2 linked regions of the Homo sapiens genome follow. The protein of the gene in region 1 purifies or fractionates together with the protein of each later gene. This does not show direct contact. Each region holds a gene or a part of one and is shown on either strand. Other genes may lie near its edges. The genes, in order: F3 and TM9SF4.

Region 1 (3,389 bases):
TGTTTTGCATTTGAATGGAGAACTACATTCTAGAGATAATAAAGCCAACTCAACTCAGCCATGACTGACTGAGTCCACTGTGCAGTCACCCTCAAGAGCTGTAAACCATGAGCTAGGCCCAGTCCCTGCCCTCCAAGAGCTCTCAATCTAGCTTGCTTTTAATGGACTCTAGAGATCTCATTCCACTTATATCTCTCCCTATCCTATATTGTCCTTTTACCTAATTTTGTTTCAATACAATCATCCCAAGAATGTTTCTTTTTTTCTCATCTCCAATTAGTCAAACTACTGCCAATGGGAAGAAATCTCTCCAAGTCTGCAGTAGAGAGCATTATCTTTTCTCTTCCCTGTAAGACGACATCCCTGCCCCGTCATGTGCCTTGCAGTGACTCCAGTAGACAAAGTATTGTCAGGCTTGGTCACTTGCTTGGGACAGTAGCATGTGAACAGAAGTGACAATGGGCACCTACAGAGCAGAAGTGTAGGAGATGGGCTTAAAGCTTGAAGCTGTGGTTGCCGGTTTCTACCAGTTTTTTGTTTTTCCCTCTGCCCTGATCTAATTAGGGGCTTCTCCATTGGTTTGCATCCTAGAATGAGAAAACATTGAGAAGAAGTGCAGTCAGCCTACAGTCACCAAAATGTATTATAAGCGAAAAAGATACGTTGTTGTAAGCCACTGACAATTTTACAGTCATTTACTGTAGTAGAGCTAATACAAACACCAAATTGTACATAAATAATAAATGGAAGATAGAATAAGTACAACAGTAACAATTCCCAGTCACCTTTATTTAAAGTATATTAAATAAATTATCTCAATATATACAAATAGAACAATATTACCTACATAAATAGAAAATCCCCATATAGAAAACCTTTTTAAAAAATTATATATACAATGTCAACCATAGAAGCTTTAAGTACCTTAAATCATAAACTCTGTAGTTTGTATAGTAGTCTTATAAAAATATAGTTAGCTCTCAAATGTTTAATGCCACTTAAGTCAGTTAAAGTGCAGATTGTAAAGCATATTAGGAAGGTGCCCAGAATACCAATGTCTCCTGCACTTAACACATTAATACAAAGTTTGCCAATTGTTTTGAATTTCCAAATGTATTCCTGAAAAAAAAAAGAACCTAAACACTATATTATAGACATATGTTAGAAAAGTCCTAGAAATGCACCCAATTTCCTTCCATTTTACTTTCCTACATGGATTGAAGTCAGCCCCTCAAAAGCTTTTCGGCTGGGCATGGTGGTTCACGCCCATAATACTAGCACTTTGGGAGGCCAAGGTGGGTGGATCACCTGAGGTCAGGAATTCAAGACCAGCCTGGCCAAGATGGTGAAACCCCATCTCTACTAAAAAATACAAAAATTAGCTTGGCGTGGTAGTGCGCACCTGTAATCCCAGCTACTCGGGAGGCTGAGGCAGACAATTGCTTGAACCCGAGAGACGGAGGGTGCAGTGAGCCGAGATCGTGCTACTGCACTCCAGCCTGGGCAACAGAGCAAGACTCCGTCTCAAAAAAAAAAAAAAAAAAAAAAAAGCTTTTCAAAAGTCCACCCAGGATTTTTTAAGACATTTTCCCATTTGTTTTTGCTTGGACGACCTGGTTACTCCTTGAGTGCGGAATATATAATCTAAAGCATGTTATGTGCAAAAGGTGCCATGGTGTTAAAAATTAAAACTTGGAATTGGTTGTAGTACCATTCGTTACATTTCAAAGTGACTAATGCTGATGTCAAAACCAGAATGCTAATGGTAATAACAGGTCATATCAAGAGTTTTTTGAACTCCAGGGTCTTCATGCTCCGAAATACTCATTTGCGTTTCCATGTATTCTATCCTCTTAAAAGTTCTCGGTCACAGTGCAATATAGCATTTGCAGTAGCTCCAACAGTGCTTCCTTTATGAAACATTCAGTGGGGAGTTCTCCTTCCAGCTCTGCCCCACTCCTGCCTTTCTACACTTGTGTAGAGATATAGCCAGGATGATGACAAGGATGATGACCACAAATACCACAGCTCCAATGATGTAGAATATTTCTGAAAAATAAAGGGCATCTAGTCAACTTGGAGAGCTCAAATCCCATTTATCAGTGGACAAAATTGACGGCATAACCCCAAATTACACCATCCTATTTTTGTGCAATTTGACTTTCTTTCACTCTTTCCACCACACTTACATTAGGAAAGAATTTGTCAAAACCTGAACGTTTCAGAGTAATTGACAATGGCTAAACACATTTAATGGGCATTTAATAAACTGAATAATGCACAGTCCAGAAAAGATATGTAGTTGGAGGTAAGAACAATGGCTGGAAAGAAGTGCCTAAAAACGATGCTGAGATTGATGGCAATGATTATAACGGAAGGTGAACCCTAAGTGCAAAGTGGGAGATCCAAAGTGCTACCAGGATTTGGGTGAAGAAGAGATAGTAACTAGTTGGTGCAGTAGCAAGGCCTTCTGGTGGAAGTGGCGTTTGAAATGCCTCTCCAAGATAGAGAACGGCCAGGGAAGCAGAGAAGTGTGTGTGCACAAAAGGAGAGGCAGTGGAATTAGAGCTAGGCTTTAGGACAATGACTGAAGGCTGTGGGTAGGATGGCTCAGAGGGGTGCAGGACCAGAGGTAAAGAGAAACCTCTCCTGTCAGTGGCAATAAACAGGAGAGAACAGTTTATTTAAAGTGTTTTAAAATGTTCAAATATCATCTTCACATGGAGCTAAGCCATCATTTCTTTTTTCGTTGTTTCTTTTTTTTTTTTTTTTGAGATGGAATCTCGCTCTGTCACCCAGGCTGGAGTACAGTGGTCCAATCTCAGCTCACTTCAGCCTCCGCCTCCCAGGTTCAAGCAATTCTCCTGCCTCAACCTCCTGAGTAGCTGGGACTACAGACACGTGCAACCACACCCAGCTACTTTTTGTATTTTGAGTAGAGATGGGCTTTTACCATGTTGGCCAGGCTGGTCCCAAACTCCTGACCTCAAGTGATTTGCCTGTCTGGGCCTCCCAAAGTGCAGGGACTACAGGCGTGAGCCACCACACCCAGCGTAAGCCATCGTTTATATCCCCTGACTCTTTTCTTCACTGGAAGTACTCAGAATACTTTCCCTGTAAGGCATGGATCGAGACACACAGGCTTGCAGCTTCCTGCAAGAGTCTGAAGGCCCACAGCACTTCCGGTTAGGGACTGTTCCTCGCACAATGGGCCTGAGCTCCCAACATATGCACATGCATGTACACACACGTGTCCGCCATATACACACATGCATGCATGTGGGTATATTTGATATACTCAATCCCTTCCCTTGATGGGTTAGACTCTACAGCCTCTGTGGCAACAGCCCACAGTGGGTACTCACGAATGTCTACTGTGTCCTGCTGCA
Region 2 (7,302 bases), on another chromosome or scaffold:
AAAAAAAAAACAAAAAACAAAACACACCACCACCAACAAAACCCTGCAAGTACGGTGATTTAGTGTTTGTTGTGCCACCTGGGAGTGTTGTACTGAAAACAGTAACTGATTTAAAGAAACTGAGTATGTAACATATGCAGTGACCCACAGAGGCCAGTTTAAAGGGTGCATATGGAGAAACTTCATATCTGGTGCAATAGTGAAAAGGTGTGGAAGCAAATTTATTACAGGGGTATGTGATGAAGGGGCAAAGTGGAGTCACAGGCTTGAGTTTGGTCTGTGTCAGCACTTCATTACACGGAAGTCAGAATAGTCCCCACACCCTCATACACACCCTCATTTCATAACCATTGGGGCGAGGGGGTGCGGTAGACCTACTTTGGAGTGTATGGGTCTCTGAGGTGAGTCATACAGCCAAAGAGGAACTGAACTAGTGGATCCAGTGGCCGTGGGAATAGCTGGGTTGCTGGTTTGTCCTTTGTTTTGAAAGTTAGGGTTGTGGGTGCAAGTGCGGTGGCATGTGAGCTTTTCCCTTTCTCTCTTTCCTTGGTGAATGGCTCTTCTTCCCCAAGGGTTGAGCCGCCAGCTCCCAGAACAATGTCAGTATGGAGGGTGTTTCCTGAACCCGCAGGGCAAGACTTCTCCCTCCATAGAAGATAGCTGGTGTAAACTGAAGTTCTCTTTGATTTTCCTGTCTTCTTCCATCCTTAGATTTAGACTACTCTGTAAAGTTACAGGATACAGTGTTGATCTAGCTAGGTCTGAATTGAGATGCGGGCTCATGTCTCACTCTTTATGGAAAACGGTTCTTGGGAATATTATTTCATTGAAACTTGGGAAATGTCCATTGAGTACATTTCTAGATGTGTCAGGAGTCTAGAAACTTCAGTTTGGAGAATAAAACTCTACTTCCCTCACATCATTGTTCATACTGTTTTGGTTTTTATTATAATCTTCTTTATGGATATAATTCATATGCCATAAAATTCACCCCTTTAAAGTATATAATTTAGTGGGTTTTAGTGTTTTTATAGGTTGTGCATACACTAAATGTGATGGTTATCACCATTGTGTAATTCGGAACATTTCATCACCCCAAAAAGAGAGTCACTCCCTACTCTTCCCTCCCCACAGCCCTAGGCAACTACTAATTTACCTTCTGTCCCTATAGATTTGCCTATTCTGGACATTTTATACAAAGATAATTATATAATATGTGATCTTTTGTGTCTGGCTTCTTAGCATAATGTTTTCAAAGTTTGTTTATGTTGTATCATGTATCAGTAGTGCCGCATCCCTTTTTATGGCTGAATCTTCCCTTGTATGGATGTACCACAGCTTGTTTATCACTCATCAGTTGATGGATATTGGGATTGTTTTCACTTTTTGGTTGTTAGGTATAATGCTGCTGTGAACATTCAGGTGTAAGTTCTTGTGTGAACATACATTCAGTTTCCATGGGTGTATGGAAGTGTATTCCTGCATCAGTTCACACTGTTTTGAGGTTACTTGGGTTTGAGCCACTCCAGAAACAGGAATGGAATAAATGACATCAAGATTCCTTTGTGCTAATGGAGCCAATGCCAGTAGTCCCTCCAGCCCCAGTCAAAGGCACAGAAACTGGTTTTGTTTGTTTGTTATTATTATTTGAGACAGGGTCTCACTCTGTCATCCAGGCTGGAGTGCAGTGGCACGATCATAGTTCACTGCAGCCTCCACCTCCCGGGCTCAGGCGATCATCTTGCCTTAGCCTTCTGAGTAGCTGGGACTACAGGCACGCACCACATCCACCTAATTTTTTAATTATATTTTTCTTAGAGACAGGGTCTTGCTATGTTGCCCAGGCTAGCCTTGAACTCCTGGCCTCAAGCAATCCTCCCGTCTTGACCTCCCAAAGTGCTGGGATTACAGGTGTGAGTCACTGTGCCCAGCAAAAACTGTTTTTAATGGTGAAATAGCGTGCTAATCAGGTTGGATGATAGAGTCCTGGAACAGAAGGCCAGAGGCCTGAACTGTGCCATCAGTCTTGTGTGCAGGAAGTTGCTGTCTCCTCTGGACCCCATGTACAGGAGGACATGAGCTGACTGAAGAAGGAACGCTGGAGCAGGAGCCAGCAGCCTGGGCTTGGTCCCAGCGCTGCCACTGATGCATTGTGTGGCCTGGGGCAAATTACTTTGGCTTCATTAGTCTGTTTTCCACATATGTCATGTGTGAAATTAAGGTTTGTACTTGATGATTTCCAAATTCTGAGTTGAAAATTTTGTAGTTTGGAATACTTTAAGGTGAGTTTTGCTAATATGCCTATAAAATCAGACTTATTTTGTTTTTTCCATGATGATGGTCACTGTGATCTTTCCAAGCTGTTGTGTTGGTTGTATTGTCTGTCTGATCACCCAGGTTTCCCCACCTGGCTCATGTTCTGCAGGAGCTACTGTGTCCTTGGAGCTGAGGTGCTGACATCGGGCCTTGGTTAAATGTGTTTCTCTGAGGGGTCCCTTTAAAGGAATGCCCTTAATCCCCCTCAGGAAGTACAGAGGAGGTTGGGATCACATTAAGTTGCCTCTTAGTTTCTGTTTTACAACTTGGACAAACGTCTCCCTTTGATCTTGGCATTAAAGAAGCACGTCAGAGAATGTTGGAGAAGGCTGAGTTTTGATCTCTGGGCACTGGCAAAAAGGTGGGAAGGACCCAGGATGAGAAGAGCCATCTGGCCACGGATGAATAATAGGAGCCACTACCACCTTCAAGCCTGCTTTGATCCCTGAACCATTTGCTGACACTAGAGTTTCCCAAATGGGGCATGGATGGGGACACCCAGGACTTCTCAGTTCCATCTCATTCCTTTTCATTGCTTCCTTCTCTCCCTTCCTAACATGGTTTCTCACCTATGCCTGATGCTTTAAACCAACAGACCTCCCAGGGTTTGAAATCCTCTTATGCTTGGTCTGAGAATCTGGGCTAGACTCCCAGCTCTGACACTGTGATTACTTTTGTGACTTTGGACTGATTGGTTATGTGATTTTGGGAAAACCGTTTGCGCTTTTAAGCCTCAATTACCTTATATTAAAATTTTTTATTGTGGTAATAACAAAACCTACCACTTTAAGCTTTTTTTTTTTTTTTTTTTTTTTTGAGACAGAGTCTCACTCTGTCGCCCAGGGTGGAGTGCAATGGTGCGATCTCAGCTCAGTGCATTACTGCAACCTCTGTCTCCTGGGTTCGAGCGATTCTCCTGCCTCATCTTCCCAAGTAGCTGGGACTACAGGCATGTGCCACCACGCCTGGCTAATTTTTGTATTTTTAGTAAGGATAGGGTTTCGCCATGTTGGCCAGGCTGGTCTCGAACTCCTGACCTTGGGTGATCCACCTGCCTCAGCCTCCCAAAGTGCTGGTATTACAGGCATGAGCCACCATGCCTGGCCCACTTTAAGCATTTTTAAGTGTGCAGTTCAGTGGCATTAAGTACGTTTACACATATGCAGCTGTTAGCACTATCCGTCTCCAGAACTTTTTCATCATCTCATTTTTGAAACAAGGATGATATTCTCAAGGGATTGTTGTGATGATTAAATGAAATATGAGATGAAAGTGCTAGCACAGAGAGGGCACTCTGTAACTTTACTCCAAGGTTTGAAGTCTTCCCGTGGTGAGCTATCTAAGCCTGCTGCTTGGGCTAGCTGAGAGTTCTTTTATAAATACCCAAGGTGGAGACAGGAGAGCAGTACGTTTCTGCACTTGGTGGTGTCAGGGTTGAAGTCTGGTTGCCTGTTGCTTCGTGAGGGTGGTTATTAGTTTCACCTGGACTTCCGCAGTGCAGCCTGCTGTGCGTTTTTCCCTACCCCCAAATTACAGCTTTGAGTCTTTCATGTGTCTCTGTTCAACAGCTACTCTGTGTCTGTGGGCTCTGAAATAAAGGCTACATTTTCAGTTTCCTGTGGCTAATTTGTTTTTTGTTTGTTTGTTTGTTTGTTTCTTGCTCTGTGAGTTCTTTAGTTCCATGGGCCTGCTTGGTAAGTTGTCTCTAGCTGTCATTAGCCTTCATTCACATGCGGCTGGATTCTTGGTAAGCTTTAACTGACTGGATAATTGACTTCAGTTAACTGTTGGCAAACTGTGCCCAAAGCCTTTTTCTTTTTTTTTTTTTTCCTCCTTTTTCCTTTTTCTTTTTTTTTTTTTTTTTTTTTTTTTTGCTTAATCTGAGGGAGCAGTTACTGACATGGTCTCAAAATGGTGACTGTCGCCAGGCACAGTGGCTTACACCTGTAATCCCAGCACTTTGGGAAATGCCGAGGTCGGAGTGGGTCATTTGAGGTCAGGAGCTCAAGACCAGCCTGGCCAACATGGCGAAACCCTGTCTCTACAAAAATACAAAAAAATTGCCGGGTCTGGTGGCAGGCACCTGTCATCCCAGCCACTCAGGAGGCTGAGGCAGGAGAATCACTTGAACCCAGGAGGCGGAGGTTGCAGTGAGCCAAGATCATATCACTGCACTCTAGCCTGGGCAACAGAGCTAGACTCTGTCTCAAAAAAAAAAAAAAAAAAAAAAAGTGACTGTCTTTTAGAAAGAAAAAGAAGAATCTAGTCTATTGCTAAGGAAAATGCTGCTTTTGCAGTAGGAAAGGCATGGAACAGGAACCAAAAAGGCCGTTCAGATTGGCCAGATGTATTGCTGCTAGTTGATGCTATTTATGGGAAAGGAGATTGCAAGGCAGAGGGCTCCAGAAAAAGTTAACTTCTGGTTACAGAGAAATGCAAGTGAATGAAATAATTTTTCGTTCTCAGGGAAACTTCCTGTTTTCTTTGGAAGATGTTAATTGTTCACACCTTTCAAACTGGGTGGGGTGAATTTGGAGTGGCTGGGGGTACTTTTGAGTCCTAGCAGCCCTTCATTAGACAGCTGTTTGGGGGAGATATTTCTGAGTGCCCAACCCACCCCCGCCCCCCCAAGAATAAAACAGATGGGGAGGGAAAGACCTTGATTCTTGGTTCTCTTGAGCTTTATAACATTCCAGGTCACCTGTATCTTTGCCAGTGATGGCGTGTTAGATTACAGCACAAAAGGCTTCTAGATTGCCATCACCTTGTTCCTTGATATGCTGCCTTTGAGGTCTCTTTTGCTACTTGGAAACCAAGTAGCAAAAGCAAAATGACGTTGAATGGGCTGGTTCACATCTCTTAGGACTCTTTGCATGGCTCTGAACATGCAGAAGATGATTACTAAATATTTAATTGACTTTTCAGACTGAACCTCTCATGGGAGTTAATGAGGCAATCAATTAAAAATTAAAAGAAAATTTAAAGGAATTTCCTAAGAAGCAGGTACTTTGCTTTTTCCTTACAGAAAAGAACTGCAGGCCAAACATCCTCTATCAGGCTATCAGGAATATAGAAGGTGATGAAGTCATAGAATCATAAAAAGTTGGAACAGTGTCCAGGGGTTTTACCAGAAACCCATGAACTTCTAGTCCTTGATTCTCTGTGTATTGGAATATTTTTTCCGAGATCAGTATCTGTAGCTTTGATAAGTTTCTCAGAGGGATTTGTGACACCCTCCCCAAGATTAAAAATTGCTGATCTGTCTGCTTACCCACATACCTGGTGCCAGAATCCGCTCTGCATAATTCTTACCTTAGCCCACTTTCTGCACATCTTCTGTGGAACTCATCCCAGTATTTTCAGAGGCAACCCATTTCCTTCACTTCTTAAAATATAAATGAATATATGTCTTTAATTTTTTAATTTTTTTAGAGACAGGGTCTCACCCTGTCACCCAGGTTGGAGTGCAGTGGTGGAATCATAGCTCACTCTAACTGCAGCCGTCGGACTCCTGGGCTCAGGTGATCCTCCCACGTAATTATAGGTATTAGCTACTATGCCCAGCCTAAATGTATTTATTTTGTTGTATTTATTTATTTATTTATTTATTTATTTATTTATTTATTTATTTTTATTTTGAGACAAGGTCTCACTCTGTTGCCCAAGCTGGAGTGCAGTGGCGTGATTTCTGCTCACTGCAACCTCCACCTCCCAGGCTCAAGTGATCCTCCCACCTCAGCCTCCAGAGTAGCTGTGACTACAGGCAAGCACCACCATTCCTCATTAATTTTTTGTATTCTTTGTAGAGACGAGGTTTTGCTCAGGCTGGTCTCAAACTCTTGGGCTCAAGCGATCCACCTGCCTCGGCCTTACAAAGTGCTGGGATTATAGTCCTGAGCTACTCTGCCCGTAAATGTATTTATTTTTAATAAGGGTGATCCATGTATGTGGAAAAGAGTATTAAAAAGCTATAAAAGTATCAAAACATTATGTTGTGTGCCTACCATAAATATATTCAATTTTTACTTGTCAGTCTTTAAAAAGCTATAAAATGGATCAGGCGCAGTGGCTCACACCTGTAATCCCAGCATTTTGGGAGACTGTGTTGCTCATAAAGGAATACCTGAGGCTGAGTAATTTATAAAGAAAAGAGGTTTATTTGGCCAGATTTGGTGGCTCATGCTTGTAATGTCAGCACTTTGGGAAGCTGAGGCAGGTGGATCGCTTGAGCCCAGGAGTTCAAGACCATCCTGGGCAACATGATGAAACCCAGTCTCTATTAAAAATACAAAAATTAGGGCTGGGCACCGTGGCTCATGCCTGTAATCCCAGCACTTTGGGAGGCCGAGGCAAGCAGATTCTAGTGGGTGTGTGGTGGTACCTCACTGTGGTTTTGGTTTGCGTTTTCCTATTGACAAATGATATTAAATATATTTTATGCTTATTAGTCATTCATATATCTTCTTTGGTGAATTTCTGTACAAATCTCTTGTCCATTTTTAAATCGGATTGTCATTTTCTTATTAAGTGTTCTTTGTATATTCTGGATATAAGTTCCTTATCAGGTATGTGATTTGCAAAGAATTTTCCACTAGTCTTTGGCCCATCTTTTCATTTTCTTAGTGGTATCTTTGGAAGTGTAAAAGTTTTTAAATTTTTATGAAATTTAATTTATTATAATTTTTTTAATGGATTCTGGTTTTGGTGTTGTATCTAAGACATTTTTGCCTAACCCAAGATCACAATGATTTCTTATTTTTTCCGTATAGAGGTTTTTGAGTTTTAGCTTTTTTGTTTAGTTCTGTGATCCATTTTGACTTAATTTTTGTGTGTATGTTCTGAGGTTCCATGTGCATATGGCTACCCAGTGGTCCAAGCACTATGTTTTGAAAAGACTTATGTTTCTCTATTGAATTTGCCTTGTCAGCTTTGTTGAAAATCAATTTAGTATAAATGTAAAGATTTATTTATAGACTTTTAATTATT

The links.
Region 2: the proteins of F3 (region 1) and TM9SF4 purify together in Homo sapiens (affinity purification with mass spectrometry; 3 studies listed by BioGRID and IntAct, with this or other methods). This does not show direct contact.

The regions. Positions count from the first base shown.
Region 1 is NC_000001.11:94,528,548-94,531,936, forward strand, and holds the end of F3 (tissue factor isoform 1 precursor), read right to left. Parts: intron 2,050-3,389; coding exon 1,913-2,049; 3' UTR 626-1,912; downstream 1-625. UniProt on the Homo sapiens protein: Initiates blood coagulation by forming a complex with circulating factor VII or VIIa. The [TF:VIIa] complex activates factors IX or X by specific limited proteolysis.
Region 2 is NC_000020.11:32,112,700-32,120,001, forward strand, and holds part of TM9SF4 (transmembrane 9 superfamily member 4 isoform 1 precursor), read left to right. Parts: intron 1-7,302. UniProt on the Homo sapiens protein: Associates with proteins harboring glycine-rich transmembrane domains and ensures their efficient localization to the cell surface.